5 separate regions of the Homo sapiens genome follow, and all the other regions are linked to region 1. Evidence: fine-mapped expression QTL. A gene starts in region 1. Each other region holds a variant in brackets. All regions are shown on one strand. Distances are between the middles of the regions.

Region 1 (5,211 bases):
CTTAAATTTCATGAGGACCGCCACCTCCTGCAGTGCCAAGTGCAGTCACATACATTAGCTCCTTCAGCTCTTCTTGACTGATTAGCTTTATGGGGTAGGCTTTGTTCTTAAGACACTTTTACATTACAGAAATGGGGATTCAGAAAGGTTCTGTGACTCCCCTAGGGTCACCTGGGGTCCAGGAGGTAGCCTGAGAGTCAAACTCAAGCTCCTAAATCCAAGTCCAGTGTTCTTTCTACTATACCATCACTTCCTGGTTGTCCCGTTGAAGACTAAATAATAGGCCAGGCGTGGTGGCTCATGCCTGTAATCCCAGGAATTTGGGAGGCCAAGGTGGGAGGATTACTTAAGCTCTGGTGTTCAAGACCAGCTTGGGCAACATAGCAAGACCCCAACTCTACTAAAAATAATAATAATTTAAAAAAACAGCCGAGCGTGGTGGCAGGCACCTATACTTGGGAGGCTGAGGTGGGAGAATCGCTTGAGTCCAGGAGTTCAAGGCTGCAGTGAGCCATGATGGTACCACTGCACTCCAGCCTGAGTGACAGTGAGACCCTGTCTCAAAAACAAACAAAAACCAAAAAAAAAGCAGACAGAAAGAAACTCTAAAAATAAATAAATAAGCTACTCCTCTCATTCATCCGTTAACAAACCTCTCATAATGACCCCTACCGTTTACTGACTTCTTGCCATGTAGCAGGCACTGAGCTAGACTTTTCTTGCAAAATTTCATTTACATCACGCCATAATCCCATGAGATGAATACTATCATTAGTTTCACTCTACAGATGAGGAAACTGAAACTCAGAAAAGTTCAATAATTTGTCCAAGGGCACAAAGTAAGTAGGAAAGCCAAGACTTAAGCTGAGGGCTAATTCTAAACTCCCTGCACATAACCATGGCACAACATTCCAGTTGGAAGTGGTAAAAGGTCCCTAGCAGGATGGAGACAGGGCAAGAAAAATGCCTTGAACCTAAATTAGGAGTGTGACCTAAAGCCTAGAAGGAAGGAATGAAAAATATGGATTACAGAAGGTAAGTTTAGGTTTAAATGAACCAGTAATCGCCACGTCAACTGCTTCCCATGGGGCTTGGAGCCCGGGTCCCAAGCAGAAGCCTCATCTCTCTGAGGCCCTATTTAAAGATTCTGAGCATGGTACAGTATCTCCAAGGACCCCACATGATTTCTAACAAGCAAGAAAGGTGTCACCATCTACTGTAACTAAACATCCTAGCACATTGAGTTTTTCAGTTAGTCAAGGCTTCACAGAGCTTATTTTTTAACTCTCTAAGCTTTCCTGGTGCCGCTGATAAGATTTCCCAGCCCTGTTAAAACGAGATGAGATCCAGCCAGCTGTCGAGAAATGTACAATGAGATTATACTGAGAAGGAACCACGAGAGACAAAGGCCCCTAAGAGGAGCTGGTCTGCTGTCTGCTTTTGTGGCAGCAATCGGAGTGGGCTCTGGTTCTTGGGTGGGGGCAGGAAGCAGGGAAGGGGCAACCACCATTTGCCTTTTGCCCTCCTGTGGTCTTCCTCAGTGCCTTGTGCAAGAGGTGTTGAGGGGCAGGGAACAGAAGAGTCTCATCTTTCATGGTGAGAAGGGCTGCTGATTTAGAACAGTTGTGTGTTGGTAACAAAGAGGACAAAAGATGCTCTTGGGTCTACCCCGTTCCCTGGTGCCTGCCTCTGAGGATGTGATGTCCCCTGGTGCCATGCCTCAGCTCTTGTCCCAGCCCCTGCTCCTCCCGTCTCGCTGGTGTTGGAGTCACTGTAGGGTGCTCGACGTGCCCACCATGTTCCTGGATGGGTGCTCTGGGTCTCGGGTACCCAGGCTGGGCATGTCACCTTCCAGACAGGTGCCTGAGGGTTTAGGTGTCCTCTCTGCTGTGCCCAGGTCACAGAGGCAGTGATGCTCCTGGGGCAGGTGCACGTTGGTCTGCACCCACGTGACCAGAGAGAGCAGGACCCCAGGCCAGGCCGGTCAAACGATTGACTGTTCCCAGTCTGTGCCCAGGTGGGCCGCCTCCCTCTCACGCGGGCAGAGGTGGCTCTCGGCGCCCCTCACCTGCCCGGGCCTTGGGGGCGCTGCTGGCACTCGGGTCCCCCAGCTTCTCCCGCCTCTCGCCGCCAGGCCGAGCCCGGGCACCGGCAGCCGCGGCGCGCTCGGGGCTCTGCAAAGGCCGCCCGGGCCTGTCCCCGCCGCGGGCCGGGCACGGAGCCCGCAGGCCTCGGCGCGGCCCGGCTCCTCCCGTCCGCCCGCCCCTCGGCCGGGGGCCCGCGCCCGCCCGCCCGCCCTCCCGGCTGCAGGGCCGGCTCCGCCGAGCCTCCGCGGCGCCCGGGCCTCACTTAACTGTTCCCCGCTGGGGCGGCGGCGGCGGTGGCTGCGGCGGCGGCGGGTCCCGGCTCCGTCTCACGCAGAAGCAGCTTCTCATCGCCCGGGCGGCGCGGGAGGGGCCGGGCCCGGGGCCCAGGCGGCAGGAGCCGGCGCCGCAGCTCGAGCGCGAGCCTCACCGAGAGCGGCGGCGGCGGCGGCGGCGGCGGAGGGGCGGGGCGCGGCCTGGCGGCGGCGGCGACAACGGCAGTGGCGGCGGCGGCTCCCTCCGCGGGCCGCGGCGGCGGGCCGGGCTCCGGGCCTCCCGGCGCTGGCGCTGGTTCAGGATCGGGGGAGGCGCCCGGCGCCCGAGGCTGGCTCGGGCGGGAGGAGGGAGAGGGAGCCCTGGCGTCCCGAGCCCGCGCCGCCGCCCCGGCCGGCACCCCGCCTCCCCAGCCTCCCCCTCGACCCAGCCCGTCAGCCGCAGGCAGGGCCCCGGTGCGCCCACCCGGGCCTCCCCGAGCCCGCCGGCGACCCCAGTCCAGCCTCAGGCCCCCGGGAGCCCACGGCCTCTAGAGCCTGGGGCATCGATGGTCCCCGCCCCCAGGCTGGTCTTTTCCAGGGACCCTCAGCCCACTTAGCTCTCGTAGGCCTCGCTGTACGCAAGACCGGTCTTCCGCTCGGCTGCAGATCCCTGGAAGCCCCCAGGCCCTCAGGCTAGAAGTTGGACCCTTCTAAGGACTCTCCGCCCACCCAGCCATTCTAGGCTTCACTGAACCCTAGAATCCTTCAGCTCATCTTCCCCCACCCCCCAGCTCACCTAAGGTGAGCTCAGCCAGTCGTCTCAAACTAACCCCAATTGCCTAGCAATTCTCTTATATTAGTTAGATGATTTATCCCCAGAAGCCTAGAATCAGGTTTATGGGGCCAGCCTCAGGCAAGCATCTAGAAGAAGTTTTTAGCAGGAGTCCTACCCTGCAGTACTTGGGGAAGGCATAAGCCAAGGATAAAATGGAGCTGGATGGTTGGGGGAGGGTCCAGAGCTTGACCCTCAGCTAGAGTGGCTGGTAGGAAAGGCGGACTCTGCGCCTTAACCAACCATGCCCCCCACACCGCCCAGCCAGGCACCCCAGGCAGAGGCCAGCGTGTGCAAGATTTGAAAGGTTTCCTGCCAGGAGGCTGGAGCATTCGTTAGGACTTGAGGACCATGCAGGAGTGATCAGCATTGATTTGCTAATGCATTGAGTCTCATTTTCACACATTCTAGGCTTTTCCATAATAGCTGTTTGATCCTAAAGAGAAGGGTGCCAAGCAGAATGGGCTGTCGGGGGAAACATCCTGTAGGGAAGCCATGCACGTGTGCATTCCCAGTGTCTTCACTACTCAGAAATGCCATGGGTTCAGATGGCTTTACAGCAAGCCTTATCCTCCCATCAGGGCACAGATCATCCCTATGTTACTTAAACTGTTACACAGGAAAAAATAAACAAAAGAAACAAAAATTTTTATTTCATTTCCCAAGTTTAGCATAACCCTGATACCAAAATCCAACAGACAATACCAAAAAGAACTGCAGATGACTAACCTAGAACACGAGTCCCCAGAGAATTTAATATTTATTTTTTGAAAATGGGCTTCTGTGGGCAACTTGAGAAAGTGCTGCATGCCGTTTATAGTGTACCTTTTGGAGAATCACGATAAGTATTCGTATATTAAGGAAGGCCTCTGTGAAGTCCAGGAGTAAAGAAACCTGTTTGGTTTGTTTAACCTGGCATTTCCCAAACTCATCTGAGCCAGGACCACCTTCTAAAGCTCACTGATAAATCCTCAATATGTGAATCTGCACTATATATTTAAGTATATAATAGTCGTAAAACTATTAAATACAATTTTAGCCATTTGAATCCAGTTTACTATTAAAGCAACTGAAAACCCACCATGATCAAGCAAGATTTATTCCAGAGGCGCAAGAAAAATCCAACATTAGGGAATTTGTAAATGCATTGCATTGTTAAAGGAAAACAAATTACAGGATATTATCAATGGGATAGATGCTTTAAAAGTATTTTATAAACTTCAAAACTAATGACCCATAAATTTCTAAAAACTCTTAGTAAACTATTATAGGAAGAAAGTTTAAACTTTTAACATGACAAAGTTTATCAGAAGCCATCAACAAACATATTTAATGGTGAAACACTAAAGGTATTCTCATGTAAGTCAGTCAAAAGGATGCCTGCTATAATGGCTATAGAATAAAGCCAATGCAATAAGATAAGAAAAATAAATAAGAAATATAAATATTAGAAGGGAAGAGATAAAATTGTCATTATTTGCTTATGATTTAAGTGTTTCCCAAAAAGTAAAAATAAAAAAAATCAACTAAAAATCATAGAGACTTTGGTAAGGTGGTCAGTTATAAGATAAACACCAAAATCAATGGTTTTCCTAAATGTTAAGGGAGAAGCCTTCTCCTTCCTTCTTCTTCTTCTTCTTCTTCTTCTTATTATTATTATTATTATTATTATTATTATTCTTTTTTTTCTTCCTTACCCTGTCTTATGGTATTGAAGGGAGAAGCCTTCTTTTCCATATAGAGGGACTTCCATTAGAATAAGACTTCTGGCCTCTCTCCACTCTAAGGGAAGATGAGTGAGTTTGGAAAAAGTGGACAAGAATAGATGCTTCTGAGTTCTCTTTTTGGATTTGGCTGACTGCAGAGAGCAAATATTTCCATGCGCTCTCACTGTGGGTTAAGTGAACCTGTTTCAGGGACAGAGTGATACTATTCTCCTGCACCACCCGCCACTACACAAATAAATCTACTCAATTCAGGGAGAAATATAGCAAGCCCACTTAGCTACAGAGCAAAAGCTACTTTTTCCAGTCAGCTTCAT
Region 2 (5,000 bases), 120 kb before region 1:
TGATTCCCAATGTTGGAGGCGGGGAGCCTGGTGGGAGGTGACTGGATCAGGGGGCAGATCCCTCATGAATGGTTCAGCACCATCCCCTTGGTAATAAGTGAGTTCTTGCCCCATTAATTCACCGAGATCTGGTTGTTTGAAAGGGCCTGGGACCTCCCCCTTCTCTTTCTCTTGCTCCCGCTCTTGCCATGTGATACATCGGCTTCCCCTTTGCCTTCCACCATGATTGGAAGCTTCCTGAGGCCCTCACCAGGAGCAGATTCTGGAGCTTCCTATATAGTCTGCAGAACCGTGAGTCAATTAAACCTCTTTTCTTTATGAATTACCCAGTCTCAGGTATTTCTTTATAGAAACACAAAACGGCCAAACACAAGGCTCTTGAAGTAATTTTTAAAAAGTGAATTAACTGGTCTTTCATGGTGAACCATAAGAATAGAAGAGTCTAGTAGAACAATCAGCTCTTTAATAACAAGGTGATTATTTGGCAAAGAACGGCTCTGAGCAGGGCTGGACTTGCAGCATATGTGTGGTCTCTCAAGGGGCATTCATTCCCTGGGCAGGGAAACTCTGAAAGCAGGGCTTGTGCCCACAGCAGGGGATGAGCTGGTGGAGGGCCTTGAGAGGCATAGCTCAGGGTGTACAGGAGGCTGTGGTGCTCACAGGATCCAGCAGAGGAGGACAGGAGCTGCCAGGGAGGGCTTCTGGGAAGAGCTGGAGACACAGACAGGTCAGAGGCTGGCAGGGATGTGGTGGGGAACAGGAGGGCTCTCTTTGGTGGAAGAGACAACCACAGCAAAGGTGGAAAACCCCTGGAGGAGAAGCCTCACCTGGCCAGAGCAGAGGGAGGAGGAGGGGCAGCACTCAGAGCCAGGGCCACAAGGGACAGGAGCACCATGGAACTTATGGCCAAAAATGCGAGATGCGACAAAAGGGGAATTCTATTTCGATGAAGAGTAAAATACATAATAGACCTTTAACCGTCATAAACCTTCATGGCCTCAATAACACTGCATAGGAACATACAAAATAAAACCAATGATCAAAATGATACTGACATGAGAAGAACTGTGCAAAACAAAAGCTACCATTGTTTGGTCAAATTGAATGAATGAATGTATATATCTATATGGGGGTATACATACCCATCCATCCTACTTGATCAAAAAACGTTGATGGTGGGAGTGTATCTCAAACACTGTGACAGAGAGAAGATGTGTTTTCAAGTATCAACGGAGCATTTAGTAAAACTGATATATCTATTAGACTGCAAAGACTAAATACACTTGAAAAAACAAAAAATTATAGAGGTCATATTCTCGGATAATTACATAATAAAAGTAGAAATTAAGGTTTCAAAAATTACTTAGAAATGTCTTTTCTAACACTTGAGTCAAAGGGATAATCAAAACTGAAATTATGTATTTATAAATAAATATTATATATGAAAGCTACAGAATGCCACCAAAGCAATATACAAGAATATTTATATAACCCTAAACACTTTTATTAAAAATCAAAAAAGGACAGAAAACAAATGAGGGAACCACTCAAGGGAAGCTATTAAAAAAGCTAAAATAAATAGAAAGTTAAAAAAAAAAAAAAAGGTGGCTGGGGGCAGTGTGGTTCATGCCTGTAATCCTAGCCCTTTGGGAGGCCGAGGCAGGTGGGTCACCTGAGGTCAGGAGTTGGAGACCAGCCTGGCCAACATGGTGAAACCCCATCTCTACTAAAAATACAAAAATTAGCCAGGCATAGTGGTGCGCACCTGTAGTCCTAGCTACTCAGGAGGTTGAGGCAGGAGAATCACTTGAACCTGGGAGGCGGCGGTTGCAGTGAGCCAAGATGGCACCATTGCACTCCAGCCTGGACAACAGAGTGAGACATTGTCTCAAAGGAAAAAAAAAAAAAAAAAAAGAAAGTTAAAAAAAAGAACTAATACAGATAAAAATTTATTAAATAGTATAAAGCAAAAGTCTAATGGCTTTATAAATTTAAAAAGCAGTTATTTGGAAAGACAAATAAAGCAAATAAATCAACCAAGAAAAAGAGAGAGAAAAATAACATCAGGATATATATGACTATAGGTATATTAATTTTAAGATAAATACAAACTCTTAAGTAAAATTTTGTACCAATAAACTTTAAAATTTAGATGAAATTTAGGTGAAATTGCTATATTTTCTTTAAAAAAATACACATGATAAAACTGGCTCAAGAAAAAGTAGAAAGCCTGAAAAAAATCACTAATGCTGAAAGAAACTGAAATAGTTGTCCATCTCCTCAAAATGCCCCTAGCTTCCAGGTCCACATAGTTCAGACAGGATTTTTTTTTTTTTTTTTT[G/TG]GTGTTCTTTTTTCCCCAAAATGAACAGCCATTTAAATATTTTAGAAATATTTTTATATTTGAAAAAAACTTAGATCACACAAAAATTACATTTTGATAAGCAAAAAGCCTAATCTTACTTATATAAATGCCCAAATCCTAACTTAAATAGCAGTGGCTCAAATCTAGTACTATATTTAAAGAAGAATGCACCATAATAAAGATTGATTTCAGAAATATAACAATAACTTTCTAAATGCTAAATCATCAAAACAAAATAATCTGTATCTGTCAATAAGTGAGAAAAAATATTATACTACATTAAAATATTCCAAATTTTTTTATATGAAACTCAAATTAGTGCCTGAATTTATTAAAAAAAAAATCTTTGGAAAATAGGAATAGAGAATGGGTCCTTTAATACAATCAAGCCCTCTCTCCTCCAAATTCCCCCAAATCTATATCAGACTTAACCATGGGACACTAGAAGCATTCCCATTAAAGTCAGGAACCAGGTAAGAATGAAAACTACTGCCACTGCTTTCAATGTTTTAGCCAAAAATACAAAGCAAGAAAAACCAATGGTGTATAAATGTTATCAAAGAGACAAAATGATCTGTATTTGCAGATGATGTTGTCTTCCAAGAAAATCCCAGTAAATAAACTGGAGGCTATTGGAAATAACAAGCATACAGAGAGGTGGCCAGTTACCAAATGAAGATTAAAAAAAACAACAGGGCCAGGTGGAGTGGCAGAAGCCTGTAATCCCAGCACTTTGAGAGGCTGAGGTGGGAGGACTGTTTGAGGCCAGGAGTTTGAGACCACCCTGGCCAACACAGTGAGAACCCCCATCTCTAAAAAAGAAAAAAAAAGACCCAACAATATTAAATTAAATATTTAATCACCAATGAAAACATAATGGGCAATGCAGGCTGGGTGCGGTGGCTCACGCCTGTAATCCCAGCACGTTGGGAGGCCGAGGGGGAGGATCACTTGAGGCTAGGAGTTCAAGACCAGCCTGGCCAACATGGTGAAACCCTGTCTCTACTAAAAATACAAAAATTAGCCAGGTGTGGCGGTGGGTGCCTGTAGTTCCAGCTACTTTGGAGGCTGAGGCAGAATTGCTTGAACCCGGGAGGCGGAGGTTGCAGTGAGCCGAGATCGCACCACTGTACTCCAGCCTGGGTGACAGAGTGAGTCCCTGTCTCAAAAAGAAACAAAACAAAAACCAAAACCAACATAATGGGTAATGCAACAAAATTTAAAACTTAGGAATTATATAAACAGAAAGCAAAGAAAACTATAATATGTTACTGAATAATATACAAAGACATTTGAATAGAGAGTTATATCTCTGGAAGGAAAGATTGGATATTTTTCTAAATGACCACTCTCCCCAAATTGACTTATAACTTCAATGTTTTTTTCAATCAAAATCCTCAAAGTATTTTCCTTGGAACTTAAAGTGATTCTAAATTTCTACTGGGTAAAAAAGTTATTATTACCTGGAACATTCTGAAAAATAACTACAAAGAATAGTAAGATAAGAAATTAAAATACATACATTTATAATTATTAAAAGCGTGACCCTCCCATTGGAATATGCATTCAACTCAATGGAACACAACACAGGCCACAAAATACATCACAGTAAGAGGTTATTATAGGATTGTTTTCCAAATGAGTTGGTTAAAAGAAGATTATTTAACAAGTGATGCTGGGACAATAATAAATAATTTGGAAAAACATAGATTCTTATCTTGTCACACATCAAAACAAATCACAGCAGAACTTTAGATTTAAATGTTAAAAAAAATGAAGGTACTAGAATATACCAGAAAACCGAGAAGGCTTTTCTAAAACGTGATGGCAAAGACACAAAACATAAAGGAAACATGAAATGAAAGTACAAAGCAGAAACTGGAAACAAGCGGTAGTAATGTGAGAGCAAAAGAAGGCCTTGTTGCAAGAGGAGCTCCTGCAACTCCACAAACAAAATTAAGACTGCAATGGAAGAGATGCTGCGGACAGACAGGCAAAGGTCTCGAGTAACACAAGTGGCTCAACACAGGCAACCTTAGCAGTAATCAAAGAAATGTAAATTAACAATAAAATACCCCTTCACCTTCCAATTGATAAAAATTAAAAAAAAAAAATTACCAGTTAGCAAGTCTTGTGTGGAAAACCAAACCAAACAAACCTCTTTCATACATGCAGAAGTGTAAACAAATTCAACCATTACGGGGGACAATTTGTCATTATATGTCAAAATAATTAAAAATGTGTTTATATATTTATTTAAAGGAACATTCACCGAAGTATAACTTTTAGAAATGAAGATAATGTAAAAACTCAGCCACTGAGGACTGGCTAGGTAAAGTACATTGTATCCATAAGAGGGAGGATGATACAACCATTAATCCCAGCCTGACGACCACCTGACCTAATGACAAGGAACGAGGTACATGAACAGGTCTCAAAGCAGAATAGACACCTGGAGTGTTGGAAAGGAACAAATTCCTGATACATGCAATAACATGGAAGACTCTCAAAAATATTATGCTGAGAGACACACAAAGCTACATATTGTATGAGTCCATGTATATGATAGCACTGGGCAGGCAAGTGACTGCCAGGGACTGGCGATGGGGAGGGAAGGGCCGGAAATGGAGGCAAGTGA
Region 3 (5,211 bases), 190 kb before region 1:
GTCCGAGCATCCCCAGTGCGCGGCCGGGGCGTTCCCGCAGGGCCCAGCGAGGGCCGGGGAGCCGGGCGCCCCCGCGCGGCCGGACCGCGTGAGAACCCGTGTTTGGGGGCGGAGCGCAGGGCGGGGTCCCGGGCGGGCGGCACGGTGGGAGGGGCCTCGTGCAGGCGGCTCTGGAGGTCCACCCTGCTGGGCAACCTAGAAAGGGAGGTGCCAGAACCCTTGGGTTCCAGGGGAGAAAGCAGGCCAGAGACCTCCTGGGGCCCTCTCGCTGGGCAATGGAACTCCAAGGGGCTTTGCCTCGCTGCGAAGTGCCTCTTCCTGGGCCTGCGGGAGGTGAGGTGGTCTTGGCCCCTGCCAGGACCCACCCTAGGGAGCGCCCCCCAGTCAGTGAGGTGGGGTGCTGGAGACCTGGCCCGACATCATCCCTCTTCCTCAGCGGGAAGCTCTCTTGAGCTAACTGGGGCTGGTGCTTAGCCTGGAAGCAGATTGCTAGCGTGCTCCTGAGTCTCTGCACAAGGCCAGGGGACAGGTAGGGGGAGGAAGCTCACACGACCTCAGACCCTCAGTCTCCCTTCCTGCCCGTGGAGGGGCCTGGTGGGGCTTCCCCGTGGCCAAACGCCCTCTGCTGCATCCCCCACCCCTGCCGTGTGCCTTGCCCCAGGCCAAGTATGTAATGGGTTTGCTCAATTCCTCCTCCAGAAAGCCCTGGTTGCTGCTGGCTGCTGTTATCCCAGAGCCCCAGGGGCACATCAAGGGAGGTGACTAAGCTGGGCCCTGAACTGGGCCTGTCTCACCTCATGAGCCATCCTCACCTTAACCCCACAGGACAGGACACCTCCTTCCAGGTGTGCATAATCCAGGCCGCGCCAGGAGCGGCACTGGAGTTGGACATGCCTGGGCTGGAGGCCCTGAGGTGCCCCTGTCTGACTGTGTGCTTCTGAGCACTCTCTGGAGCCTCAGTTTCCTTATCTGCTAAATGGGCCATCCCTAACTTCAGGACTGTGGTGATGACACACAGAAGGCTACCCCTGCTGTCCTCTGTAAACGTTTGCTGATGCCCAGTGAACAATGAAATACCTCCCCCCTTGACATTTGCTTACCTTCCCTGGGAAACACATCCTAGTCCAGCCCCCTCTAGAGCTCAGGGCATACCTTGCCTCCTCCAGAAACCCTTCCTCACTCATCTTCCAGGGAAGGTACTGGCAGGAAAAAAAGCCAAACATTTTTTTTAAAGGGTTTGGGAGGATAGGCAAAGATTTTTAAACGAGACACAGAAAGAACGATCATAGAGGAAAAGGTTGAAAATTGGACTATGTTTTTTTTTTTTTTTTTTTTTTTTTTTGAGACGGAGTTTCGCTCTTGTTGCCCAGGCTGGAGTGCAATGTCGCGATCTTGGCTTACCACAACCTCTGCCTCCCAGGTTCAAGCGATTCTCCTGCCTTAGCCTCCCGAGTAGCGGGGATTACAGGCATGGCCACCACGCCCAGCTAATTTTGTATTTTTAGTAGAGACGGGGTTTCTCCATGTTGGTCAAGCTGGTCTCGAACTCCCAACCTCAGGTGATCCACCCACCTCAGCCTCCCAAAGTGTCGGGATTACAGGTGTGAGCCACTGTGCCAGGGTATTTAGTTTTCTTATACCAATTTTGACATTTTATATTTTTCCAGATATATGGTAATTAATACATGGTTACTAATAATATTCCTGTTAACTGTTATATCTGCAGTTATCTTTTGTTTTAATTCTTATTTGCCTCTTCTTTCTCCTTGTCTGAAGTTTGTCTCTTTTAGTCTTTTCAAAGAACCAAATTTTGACTTTGTTCATAATTTCTGTTTGCTTGATTTCATCGATTCTTTTTATCATTATTTCCTATTTCTTTGCACTTACTTGTTGCTCTTTTCCTATCTTCTTCAGTTAAAAGCGTAGCTTGTTTATGTTCAATCTTTCTTGCTTTTGGATAAATTTAAACTGTAAATTTCATTGTCTACCGTTTCAATCGTGTCCCACAATTTTTTTATTTTTATTTTTTAGAGATGGGGTTTCTGTCATCCAGGAGAGTGGAGTGCAGTGGTGCAATCATAGCTCACTGTAACCTAAAACTCCTGGGCTTAAGCAGTCCTCCTGCCTCAGCCTTCCAAGTAGCTGGTACTACAGGAGCACACCACCATGCCTGGCTATTTTTTTTTTTTTTGAATTTTTTTGTAGAGACAGGATCTCACTATGTTGCCCAGGCTGGTCTCAAACTCCTGGCCTCAACTGATCCTCCTGCCTTGGCCTCCTGGAGTACTGGGATTACAGTACATGTGAACCACCATGCTTGGCCTCCCACAAATTTTGATATGTAGTGATTTCATTATTATTTTCCTCTAAGATGTTAATAATTTCCCTTATGGCTTCCTCTTATTTAATTGTAGTGCATTTTCCAATCATGTGTGGTTTTAAAAAGCTATCATTTTGCTTTACATTTCTTATTTTTTCATTGTATGATCAGAGATGGTTTTAGATATGACGTTGGCTCTTTGGAAATTATTGAGGTTTGTTTAGTGGCTTAGTTCTTAGTTGATTCTGAAAGGATATGGGATCTATGCCAGGTTGAAAGTTCTCTGCTTGTTAATCAGGTTATTCAAACATTTTATATCTTTGCTCA[T/C]ATTTTGGCAATTTGACTACAGTTTCTGAGAGAGGTGTGTTAAAATCTTCAAGTGCAATTACTGGCTTATCTGTTTTTGTCTCTCTAGGTCTGTCAGTATTTCAAAACTGACAGGCTCTTATTCCAAACAACTTCTCCCTGCCCAATGTTCCCAGGGTCCTCCCACATCTCTTGGAGGATGCCTTTTGTTTATATTTAACTCATGCTCTGGCTGGTCTATGACTTCTGCTTCTGCTGGTGTGGGTTGCTCAGCTTTTTGTCTTCCCTGGGTGGATGAGCTCTTCTGATGTCTGTTCTTCCACCTGCCCCTGGGAATTCATAGTTCCCTGGGACTCAGCTCCACTGGCTGGTAACATGTAACTGGGGAAGTGGTGAAAGCTCAGAATTGAGTTGTTGTTGTTTTTTTTTTTTTTTTTTTTTTTTTTGAGATGGAGTCTTGCTCTGTTGCCCAGGCTAGAGTACAGTGGTGCAATCTCGGCTCACTGCAACCTCTGCTTCCTGGGTTCAAGCAATTCTCCTGCCTCAGCCTCCCGAGTAGCTGGGATTACAGGCACCTGCCACTGTGCCCGGCTAATTTTTGTATTTTTAGTAGAGATGGGGTTTCACCATCTTGGCCAGGCTGGTCTTGAACTCCTGACCTCGTGATCCACCCGCCTCAGCTTCCCAAAGTGCTGGGATCACAGGCGTGAGCCACCGAGTCCGGCCAGAATTGAGTTCTTACTCTCAGCTGCACATTGAAATCACCTGGGAAGCTTGAACACTACTGACTCCTTGGTCCCTCCTGCAGAGAGAGATTCTTGTTTGATTGGTCTGGGTGTGGGTCTGGGCACAGGAATTCTAACCCACTCTCAGAAGGTTCTAATGTGCAGCTGAAGTTGAGAACCCTGTGCCCGCTCCAGAGAAGGATGAGGAGCTGGGGATGGATGTGTCTTGGGTGTTCCAAACTGTGCCAACCTCTGCCCATGTGCCCTCCCCATCAGGAGTCCAGCCCTCAGGGCCTTCCCAGACCTCTGCCCCCGCACCACCATTCCCAAGACCTGTGTCTCTGCAGCAACATGACCCAAGGTGTGGGGCGAGGGGAGGAGGGGGCTCAGGGCCAGGCAGCTGCCCGCCTGTGCTGCCCTCTGCTGACACCCCTCCCCAACCTGCAAATGGATGAAAATGACCCACCTAGGGCAACGTGGAAGGGATGAATGGGCATAGCCAGAAAACTGACCTCTGCCATCTGTCGTCTAGGCACCCAACCACCTTTCACTCTGCTCAAGACTTTATTGAGGCTTCTTGGCCAGGCACAGTGGCTCATGCTTGTAATCCCAGCACTTTGGGAGGCCAAGGCGGGTGGATCACGTGAGGTCAGGAGTTCGAGAACAGCCTGGCCAACATGGTAAATCTCTACTAAAAATACAAAATTAGCTAGATGAGGTGGCAGGCACCTGAAATCCTAGCTACTCAGGAGGCTGAGGCTGCAGAATTGCTTAAACCCAGGAGGCGGAGGTTGCATGCAGTGAGCCGAGATCACGCCAATGCACTCCAGCCTAGGCAACAAGAGATAAACTCCATCTCAAAAAAAAAAAAAAAAAAAGACTTTATTGAGGCTTCTGATGCCCATGTTCATGAAGCAAGCCATGCTCCTAATTTTTTTTTATGTGCATTATCCATATCTATTTGGAATCAACTTATCTCTGAAGTTCTCCAGTCCCTGAGATCCAAGCCCCTGGCCATTTTAGTGTTGGGTCTTGTGACCCATCTACCTCCTCCCTTTCTCTGACATCCCCCAGAGCTGGGTTCTAGAAAGAGACACAGCAGCCGGTGGCAGTTCACCTTCCTGTCCCACCATCATCACCATGGACTGATGCCAGCTTGCAGCCAGGCCCCGTGTTGGGTCCTGCAGCTTCGGAGATGAACCAGACAAGGCTCAGCTTTCATATCCTTGTCTGATCTCTCTGGGGCCAGCATCGGGGTGTGTCCAGGGAGGCCTGCCGCTGGGCATCACAGGCCCTGTATTGCTGGTGTCTGTCCTTCTGGGGCTCCTCAGCAATTGAGTCTAGTTCATCTGTCTACTTCATCCAGTGTAAGGAATTCATTCAGAGAGCATTTGCTGATGTCCACCATTTTTCCAGGCCTGTGCTGGGCACTCTGGGTATACAATGGTGGGGGAGGGCATAATAAATGAGACATGGGGCTGGACGTGGTGGCTCACGCCTGTAATCCCAGCACTTTGGGAGGCTGAGGCAGGTGGATCACCAGGTCAGGAGTTTGAGGTCAGCCTGGCCAATATGGTGAAACCCCATCTCTACTAAAAATACAAAAATTAGCCAGGTGTGGTGGTGGGTGTCTGTAGTCCCAGCTACTTGGGAGGCTGAGGCAGAAGAAGAATCGCTTGAACCCGGGAGGCGGATGTTGCAGTGAGCCGAGATTGCGCCACTGCACTCTAGCCTAGGCGACAGAGTGAGACTCTACCTCAAAAAAAAAAAAAAAAAAAAAAAAAAAAAAAGAGACATGGACCCCTTCTTCCAGGAGCACATAATCTAATGAGAGGTACAGGTGGCTGCAATGCAGCGACA
Region 4 (5,000 bases), 35 kb before region 1:
TCAAGGTGGGTCCAAACCTAAGACACAATTCCTGAATGCAATTCGAGAAGGCTATGAAAGCAATGGGTCTAAGGTAAAGTGGCAACATCTTTGATAAAAGACACCATGTTTGCCTTAGCTAGGGCACTAGCAGGATGTGATTAGTAGTGAAAACTAGTGATCCAGCCAGCATTTCAGCAGCCCCGTGCACACTCCTACCCATGGTGCTGGCCCCACCTCTGCCCTGGAGTGGGGAGTGCAGCCTCCTCTGGCTCCAACCAACTCAGACTGCAAGGCCTGGCTCTGGGCTTCTTGCTGGTTTTAACAAAGGGGCCCTGAAAGAGACCCATCAAGACAAGGAGGGCAGGAAGAGTTGAAGTGATGGGATTTAAGAGAAGACAAGTTGAACTCGCGCCGTTCATGAGTCATGCCCGATGACAGGAGGCAAGAAAGGAAAGGAGATAAACTGGTCCTCGTGCCTAAGTCACTCTTCTTATGTACTCTATTACTCAGCTCTCAAAGCACATTGCCAGCTGTAATTGCATTTCAATTCATGTTTAACACAAACATAACTTAGCTGGATGTTGGCATCCAATATCCCAGACACAAGAAGGCCAAACAGAAAGGAGCCAGCTAATTCAATTCAATAAACATCCTGTGTGTGCTGGTGGAGAATGTGTGCACCAGGCCCTGTGCTGGGTACTGGGGGTACAGCTATGCGAAAGGCATAGCTCTGTGGCCTCCTCCTCATGGGGCTCAGTACACAGAGAAGTAATTAAAGAGTGGTAACTGTAATTAAACTGTAATTAAAGAGTGGTAAGCACTGCAATGGAGGAAAAGGGTGCCATTGAAACACACAGAACCAGAACATAATTCCACAGGGAGAGGAATGGTGGGCATGCACAAAAGCACAGAGGCAAGGATGGGCACAGCACCTCTGAGGAACTGTGAGTGGGGGCAGAATGAGAACATGAAAATTAGGGAAGGAGCAAATCTAAACAACTCTCAGATGCCAGTGAAGTCCATTCATTACATAAACACTTACTGAGTGCTAGGTGCTCAGCGCTTGGTGGTAAGTAAAACAACGAATTTGCCTGTAAGTCTAAAAACAGAGAGCCAGAGGACAATTCTAAGCAGGTGAGTAACCTCATCTTTTGGAAAGTTTCCACTGGCAACAGTTCAGGGAAGACTGGAGAAGGTTAGAATGGAGTTAGGGAAATGCATTAGAAGACAATCCAATAGGCCTTAAGAAAGGAGCGTGGAGAACGGAGTCAACGTGTATTTGCTTAGTCCACAGGTCGATCACTTCTTACATTCTTCTCCAATCACCTGCCACTCCCTACACACACGGTAGTTTGTAATCACATAATTTCCCATCATATACATACCTCATAAATTTGTCATCCTAAACCATAATCTAAAGGGTCATGGAACAGCCAGGAAGCAAGGGAGGGAATTAGAAACAAGAATTCAATGAGGTTGTTGAATGTAAGAGAAATCTATTTTTAAAACTTTAATTTTCTTTTTTTTTTTGAGACGGAGTCTCACTCTGTCACCCAGGCTAGAGTGCAATGGTGTAATCTCGGCTCACTGCAACCTCCACCTCCCAGGTTAAAGCAACTCTCCTGCCTCAGCCTCCTGAGTAGCTGGGATTACAGGCGCCCGCCACTACACCCAGCTAATGTTTGTATTTTTAGTAGAGACGGGGTTTCACCATGTTGACCAGGCTGGTCTCGAACTCCTGACCTCAGGTGATACCCCCGCCTCGGCTTCCCAAAGTGCTGGGATTACAAGTGTGAGCCACCACGCCTGGCCAAAAATTAATTTTCCTTTATGCAAAACATGTAAACCACACCAATAACCATTTTAAAAAATAAAATGAGGTGGGGGAAACAGTACCATTTACATTAGCAAGGTCAATTGTAAAACTGACCTTGGTAAATTAGCTCTGTAAAACAAATGAAGAAGCGTCCAATCTTTTTTCAAAGCTTTAGGATAGT[T/C]TGTACGATGTAAAAATTAACTGTTCCTTGGTAATTTGAGAGAATGTTACTTTAAAGCAATTTGGGCCTAGTGCTTTTGTTGTAAATAATTCTCTAACAACATTTCCAATTTCTTCCTTGGATACAGGCTTTTTAGGATTTGTTCTTAGATAGCAGTAGAAATTATCTAACTCATCAGGATTTTCAATTTCAGTCACACATGGCAGTACATAAGAGCTACACATCATCTTCTTTTATAATTTTGAAATTTCCTATATTCTTACTTTCCTTTTCCCAAATAAATTTTCCTTATCTTTATATTATTTTATTTTACTATTAGATTTGCCAGAAGTTTATCTATTATGCTTTTTACAAAGACTCAATTCTTAATTAACATCTCTCCCTCCTTTTCTCTTACTTTTAATTTCTGATTATATCTTTGTTATTTCCTTCCATGTGTTTTTCTAGCTATTTAAGCTGTGGGACAATATCTAGTGGTTCAATATACATGTCACTGGAGTCCCAGAAAGGGAGAACTGAACAAGAAATACTTTAATAATAAACAGAAATATTACAAATTTGATGAAAACTGTAAACCCACAAATTCAAGAAGATCAATGAGCCTTGAGCAGAATAAACATTAAGAAAACTACACCAAGGTATATCATAATCAAAATGCTTAAAACCAGTGATAAAGAGAAAATCTTAAAGACAGCCTGAAACCCTCTATGTACAGAGAAACAAATGTAAGAATGACAGCAGACTTCTTATAAGAAACAATGCAAGCCATAAGATAATGGAGCAACATCTTTTTTTTTTTTTTTTTTTTTCCAGAGTTTCACTCTGTTGCTCAGGCTGGAGTGCAGTAACGCAATCACAGCTCACTGCAGCCTTGACTTCCCGGGCTCGGGTGATTCTCCCACCTGAACCTCCTGAGCTGCTGGGATTACAGGTGTGCACCATCACACCCAGCTAATTTTTTGTATTTGTAGCAACATCTTTAAAGTACTGAAAGAAAATGCCAACTTAGATTTCTATACCCAAGGAAAACATCCTTCAAATACAAAGACAAAATAAAGACTTTGTTCAGACAAACAAAAGCTGAGAGAATATATCACCAACAAACCAACACTATGAGAAATGTTCAAAAAAGTTCCTCAGGCTGAAGGAAAATTATATCAGATGCAGATCTACACAAATGCAGATCTACACAAAACAATGAAGAGCACTAGAAATAGTACCATAGGGATAACTATAAAAGACTATGTTATTATTTTTAAGTCTTTTATAAGATAATAAAACTTTAAAGCAAAAATGATAACAATGTATTGTGGAGTTTATGACATACGTAGAAAAAAAATGTATGCCAACAATAGCACAAGGGCTAGAAGAGGAACAATAAACATCCTGTTCTTACACTACACATGAAGTTGTGTATTACTTAAAAGTAGACTGTGATAAGCTAAAGATACATGGTATAGACTCAAAAGCAACTACTGAGAAACAACAACAACAAAAAGAAATAGAACTGGTAAGCCAACAGAGGAAATAAAATGAGATAAAAATAATTAATAAAAAATGTTGGAAAAATAGGAAAAGGGGAAAAAACAACAGATGGGAAAAAATTAATTAAACAAAAAGCAAGATTGGTACATTTAAACCCAACCACATCAATAATCATGTTAAATGTAAATGGCTAAACACCACAATTAAATGGAAGAAATTGTCAGACTAGATAATACGGTGTCTACAAGAAACCCACTTCAAATATAAAGACACAGATAGGTTCAAAGCAAAAGGATGGAAAAGAATATTTCATGCCAACACAAATCAAAAGAAAGCTGTAGTGGCTATACTAATATATGACAAAGTAGATTTCAGAGAAAGGAATATTAACAGGGATAAAGAGGGTCACTTAATAATGATGAAGGGGTCAATTAATCACGAGGACATATCATTCCTTAATGTTTATGCAACTAATGGCTGAACACCAAAATACAGGAAACAAAAACTTATAGCACTGAGAAAAAATAGACTCATCCACAATTATAGTCAGAGATTTTAATACCCTTCTCTTAATAATTGATAGAACAAATTGACAGAAAATCAGGAATAATATAGAAAACTTGAACAATACTATCAACCAACTTGACCTAATTGACATCTGTAGGACACTCAACTGCAACAGAAGAAGAATATACATTCTTTTCAAGTGTATGTGGAACATTCACTAGGACGGATCACACTCTAGGCTGAAGTCAATGAATCACAGCTTGCAGGCCAAATCCAGCCTGTAGCCTGTTTGTGTACAGATTATAAATTACAGATAGTTTTATATTTTTTCAAGAGTTGAAAACATAATAATATACAATGGAGATCATATAGCTCACAAAGCTTAAAATATACATTATCTGGCCCTCTACAGAAAAGTTTGCTGACTCATATTGTAAGCCATAAAACTATGTTCTCTGACCACACGGAATATATTCTTAGTAACAGAAACATATCTAGAAGTCCCCAAATACATGGAAACAAAAAACCACACATCTAAATAATTTATGGGTCAAAAAAGATGTCAGAAGAGAAATTAGATAGCATTGTGAATGGAATTAAAATTATATACAACACAACAAAATTTGAGGGATGCAGCTAATTCAGAGTTTGGAGGGAAATTCATAGCATTAAATGCTTATGTTAGAAAAGAAGAAAGGTCTCAAATCAATGACCAAAACTTCCACCTTAAACAATAGAACATTTAACCCAAAGTAAGCAGAAGAAAAAATTTTAAAAAGTGAACACAATAAAGTTAAAAACAAGAATAGAAAAAGTCAATAAAACCAAAAGCTGGTTCTTTGAGAAGATTGATTAAATTGATAAAACTAAGACTATAACCAAAAATAAAATGGAAAGAACTAAAAAAAGAACTACTATTTGATCCAGGATGGCAGCCTGAGCAAGAAAAAAAGAGAGATGACACCAATTACCATTATTGGGAATAAAAGAGAGTACATTCTCCAGATCTTAGAAGCATTAAAAGGATAA
Region 5 (5,000 bases), 100 kb before region 1:
TAAGCTGCCTCTAGGCAGGAGTGTCTGGTCACACTACTTCATTCACTCCAGAGTAAACCTCTGAAGAAGTGCTAAGAGCAGGTGAAGGGCTGGGCTCAAGGGGGTTCCCTTTGTTTTCAGCATTTCTCTGGCCAGGTCTACAATTATGCTGTCTCTAAGGAAGGGAATTATCAGGGGGAAATGGGCATATTTCTGCTGAAAAACTAGACAAAGAAGATAAACATACAGGGAGAAAGGTATCAGAAAGTTGGTTTTTCTGTGTTCATGTGTTTAGGAACGTTACAGTCAAGGCAGTGTTTGGACAGAATGTCTGTGAAGTCCAGGGGCAGTAAATGCACATTTGCTGGCCACTGCGAGGCCTGGGGCATCTCAAGCTGCAGAATATACAAGCCTCCTTCCCACATAGCTTTAAGTCCTGGGAGGTGGGCATTACCACCTCCACCTTAAACACCAGACAATGCCTGGTGCACAGGAAGCGTCCCATAAGAATGAGCCGACCTATTGCTATGTTCAAATGATCGATATTGTTACTGCAATTGCTGATATGGAGAGATGTGGAATTTAGATCCAGAAAGGCTAGGATCTCTGCTGGCCTCACTCGGCTAGTCGGTGGGAGAGACAGGGCCTGCACCCAGCTGTTTGGGCTCCCACCCTGCTTCATCCAGCTGCCCTCGGCTGCCTGGACCACAGATTTAACCCTTTTCCAAGTTAAGAAGGGGATGTGGCCCATTAAACCAGTGCCGCCTAAGCTCTGCCATGCTTAAAAACCAAAAAGAGAAGGAAAGCACAGTGGGAAGGTGGCCGCCTGTTTAAGAGCACTGAGGTATCTGTCACCTAGTAATATTTTTATTTTTCATGATGACTTAACTGGAAAAAGTCTTAACTTCTTCCTACCCATGGGGCACAGGAAAAGCAGAAATGAAAGCCTAGAGCAGAAATCAGCCCCCCAGGCACTTTTCCTCCAAAAAACCAAAGGTACATTGAAAGATTTTATAGAAGTTGCAGCCTCACGCTGCCAAGCACTTCTCTCCTTCCTGCCCCCAAGCCATCATTCTGTCACCTTCTTGAGAAAGGGATCGTGGGCTGCTTGCCACGGAAAATAGCCCACTTCTAAGTGGTGATGCGTGACAGAATGTCTCGGCTTCCAGGGGGTACTGAGCTGAGCCATGCCAGAGAGCCTTTTATTGCAAGTTTCTCTGGACTGAGGAAGAAATTTCCTCTGAGCACTCTGAGAAGTAATCTTATATATCAAAATTATATAAGGAAGCACACGGCTAAGAAGATGAAGACCGTGCTGGGCCCAAGCCAGCGTGTCCCATGTGATAATTCTCAACAAGTCTTTGGGCTCTTTCTTGGATCACATCCCTGTAGGGGAGCTGAATAAGGAGAGAAGTGACATTCCTACACTGCTTCCTGGTTTATGAAATGTTCTTACCTACCCTAGATCTTCACAACAATCCAGGAAGGAAACGGGCATTACTGCATTGTTTTAAAGGTATGGATACTAGCATTGCCCAAAGTAGCATTGTGCAGGGTCCTTGTACAGTTCTAGAGGATGCTAGTCACATATTTTGTGCAGTGCACAACCTTGGCAACTGCTCACAGCAGCACTGTATGATGGCCAGTATGTGTCAGAGCCAAGATTCTGACCCTATGCTTCCAACCCCAAATGCCCTATCAGGGCAGCAGGCTTGCCCTCAGGAGCACAGGACAGGGCAGCTCTCGGTGACTGTTGAGTGAATGGAGTGAACAATCTTGCTCTTGTCTTTGCCTTTGTTTACCTACATCCTCCTCAATTAAAAAAAAAAAAAGAGGGGAGCCTCCATTCTCTCTAAATATGGTCTCTGCCCTCTCACTCAAGGTGCTCACAGGTGAAAACTCTCCAACAGAGTAGTGTGGGGTAAACCAGGAGAGAGCATCAGCAGCGGGAGAGGAATCAGAAAAGCCTGATGGAGAGGCAGCTTGGGAGTGGCCTTCAGAGCCACAGCC[A/G]GGGACAGAGAGAAGAGAAGGTGGTGAAATCTGAGCTGCTGGAGTGGCGGGGCAAGCATAGCGCAAGACAAAGGCAAGGAGGACGCAGGGAGCGACCCAGGCTGGTGGGACACGGGTGGGGCTGGTTGTTGACAGCCCCAACACCAGGCAGGTGAGGTCTGAGGTCTGAATGAATGCAGTCAGGCTGTGGAGGGGCACAAAGGTGTGATCTGAGGAGCAAGGGGACCAAGGAGGTCTTTGGAGAGATGAGTCAGCTACCTGGGCAACTGGGCTGAGGCTAGAAAAGCCTGGTCAAGGAAGAGAGTCAAGTAAGGGCTGGGCACCAAAGCCTGATACCTGCCAGACTGCAGCCCAGAAGGCCCGGGCCCACGGCCTTCTGTGGGCCCTGCATTCTAAGTGAGAATGCAGGTGTGCGAAGAGAGGTCCCACGCTTAACACTCAGCTGCAGAGGACCTGCTGGGGAACTGATCCTGACCATGGACTTCATCTGGAGTAAGATGACCCAGAGCCCAGCTCAGGGTTCTCAGGGTCTATCTCTCTGTGAAGTCCAGGAGGAGGCACTCGCACTGCAGAAAACCTCCAGGAGGCAGGAGTTCCCCAAGTGCCCTGTGTGTCTGCCTGCACACGCTGTTCATTAACTTCAGTGACACAGCCACCGTGGTGGATGTAGAAAAGCACATCCAATTAGCCAGGCCTACATGAATATTTGCACTCTTAAATCTTTTGCATTTCGAAAGGGTTAAAGCTTATTATTAGCATATAATTTACAGTCCTTTCTCCCAGGAAAGGAATAATGCACAGTAAATGCCACATTCATTTTAATAATACATGTTACAGTCTGTGCCCAACATCTGCACAAAGGTAAAGGAGACAGATTTTTTTGACATGTCCCACTCTGCCATCTAAACACAGGCTTTTTGTTTCTTAAGTGACGGAAGGTTTAATCAAGAAAGCAGGCAATTCATCAATCGAAACAAGGCAGTGTGCGTGCGCCTGACAGCACACACATGGTTGTGTACGGAGCAAACCTGGCCACCTGTCAGCCGCACCTTTTACATCAGGATATACAAATACACCATGCGATCAATTCCCCATCCGCTCCCATTCATTTCTTCTTTTTCTTATTCTATTTTTCTTTATACTTGATTTTGTTGTCAGTCAGGGCAAGAGGAGATGGATAGACAAGGGTTCTTATAGGGGATGATAAAAATGGTTCTTATAGGTGATGATAAAAATGTATCTGTCTTTAAAATGACTTCTTTCCTCCTTGGTTCAAGCACAATTATTATACATATCTTTTCACTTCATTCAGGAATTTTCCCATATGCTATTATCAGTGGCTGTGCCAAATTGATGTTCCTGTCTCAGATCTGGGGCAACCCTCCCATACGCTCACCCACCACCGCTTGAGCCAGTTGTCGGTGATTACGAAAATCCTCTGTGGAGCGAAGAACCTCAGGGAAGCCAGGGTCAGAAATGCAATGCCACCCCGAGCCACGAGAACATATCCACTGAAGACAAGGGCCACAGGGACCCCTGTGAAAGCAGAGGCTAACACTACTCAGGGGCTTGCACCAGAAGACAGTGGCTCTTTCCCTCCTTGGTGGTTATCAGGAACACACTCACTCAGCCCACACACTCACCCGAGCACAGGGAAAAGGAGAACCACAGGCACATGGCACACCCAGAATGTGGATGCAAATTCTGTGGCATCAAACCATGAACATTACAACATGCCAAGCAGTTGTGTTAGCACACCTGACACAGGAGAGAACAGCGCTTCTCAAGCACCCCATTGTTTGAGTCTTTTACCCTTCATTTTCCCAACCCTGCAGTGCTTCCTGATCATTAAAGTATTAAGTTTATTTTCAATTTCCCGGGTGAGTTTTTTTTTTCCTAATTAAGAGACAGAAATCATGTAATCACTGCAAATGAAAGGAAAATATGTTTGGAATTGTTTGGTATGCTGTAGATGAGTTTTTAAATGATCACATTGTAAGATACACATTTTTTTCATCATAAGATGAAAAGCTGGTGGCAGAAATTTTATCCAATTGGATGAAATATATAAATCATGAATTTCATAATACTGATAATTAAATGTCCATCTTCCAATTTAAATGAGGACTAGATTAAAACTGCATGGAGAAGGCTGATATTCAGAAATCATTAATTATTTTTAATTGCTTTGTGCTTTCCTACTCCAATGTCAGAGCTACATGGCTCACCCACGGTTCTGAGTTACAGATAAAATCCTCCTTCTCTCTGTACAAGGGGCCATGATCCAAACTGATGAGATGATGGACACTGACTTGACCACACCGACATCTTTCCTGGTGTCAAACATCCTGAAAGGGGGGCTGGTTTTTAAAAAGCAAACAGCTGTGGAGGGCAATAAGCTGGCTTTTCCAGCAATCAAAAAGAAAAGCAAAAAAAAAAAAAGAAAAAAAGCTGAAGGCAGAGGAGTGGCCAATACACCCCAGTCTGCCAGGATAGATTCAGGTTACAGCTTCTGTCCTGGGACAATTGTGTGCCCCCTTCACTTTAATAGTCAGCCTAATGCTGATGGATAAATGAAGATGTCAGTGAGCCAACCTGTCTAGGTCCTAAAGAGGAAAGCAGTCCTAGCCCCGCAGCTCACTGCACTGTGTGGCTTTGCAGAGTTTCTGCACTGTGGCTCACCCTGCATTCATAGGGTGTTCGAGATTTTTTGGTCTTATTATATGCCAGTTTTAATAGGTATTTGCTTAATTTTACTATGTCAATTTTTTTTCAAAAGAGATAAATAAGCTTTCTATGGTTAAAAACTGTGCACTTGGAGATAGAAATCAGATTACAACAACAAACACAACAAAAGAATAGGATGGTATCATTTCCCATCCCACAGTCCCGTTTGTTAAGCAAAACCTGCCGTAAGACAAAAAACCCTCCTAGGTTAGAAAAGCCGCACTGTGCTCTCCTTGGTGGCCCCTCTCCTTATAGGAAGCCTCTGGGGCAGCTGTGAGCAGCAG

Alleles and levels. Alleles are on the strand shown, and positions count from the first base shown. SD is a standard deviation of normalised expression in the study named. Not every link is listed here.
For the expression in CD4 T cells of the gene that starts at base 2,536 in region 1, allele G in region 2 goes with a lower level than allele TG (moderate effect, 0.56 SD a copy in CEDAR).

Evidence for each region. PIP is the estimated chance that this variant, and not a neighbour inherited with it, causes the effect.
Region 2: its variant is the best candidate, but not a certain one, in a credible set for the expression of MVB12B in CD4 T cells (CEDAR, PIP 0.56).
Region 3: its variant is the best candidate, but not a certain one, in a credible set for the expression of MVB12B in whole blood (INTERVAL, PIP 0.63).
Region 4: its variant is the best candidate, but not a certain one, in a credible set for the expression of MVB12B in whole blood (TOPMed, PIP 0.86).
Region 5: its variant is the best candidate, but not a certain one, in a credible set for the expression of MVB12B in whole blood (GTEx, PIP 0.86).

The regions. Positions count from the first base shown.
Region 1 is chr9:126,324,154-126,329,364 of GRCh38, reverse strand. It overlaps MVB12B (multivesicular body subunit 12B), which reads right to left and starts at 2,536. Exons shown (of 10, transcript NM_033446.3): 1 at 2,355-2,536. The coding sequence starts at 2,435. RefSeq lists an enhancer at 1,319-1,970 and a silencer at 2,412-2,551.
Region 2 is chr9:126,443,853-126,448,852 of GRCh38, reverse strand. All of the region lies in intron 7 of MVB12B (multivesicular body subunit 12B), which reads right to left. Among named protein-coding and RNA genes, the nearest start is that of NRON, 36 kb to the right of the region's middle. The variant G/TG (reference allele first, on the strand shown) is at 2,342.
Region 3 is chr9:126,509,249-126,514,459 of GRCh38, reverse strand. No RefSeq gene overlaps it. Among named protein-coding and RNA genes, the nearest start is that of NRON, 100 kb to the right of the region's middle. RefSeq lists a silencer at 35-94. The variant T/C (reference allele first, on the strand shown) is at 2,648.
Region 4 is chr9:126,359,699-126,364,698 of GRCh38, reverse strand. The region is part of intron 2 of MVB12B (multivesicular body subunit 12B); the gene reads right to left. Among named protein-coding and RNA genes, the nearest start is that of MVB12B, 35 kb to the right of the region's middle. The variant T/C (reference allele first, on the strand shown) is at 1,980.
Region 5 is chr9:126,427,388-126,432,387 of GRCh38, reverse strand. All of the region lies in intron 7 of MVB12B (multivesicular body subunit 12B), which reads right to left. Among named protein-coding and RNA genes, the nearest start is that of NRON, 19 kb to the right of the region's middle. The variant A/G (reference allele first, on the strand shown) is at 1,990.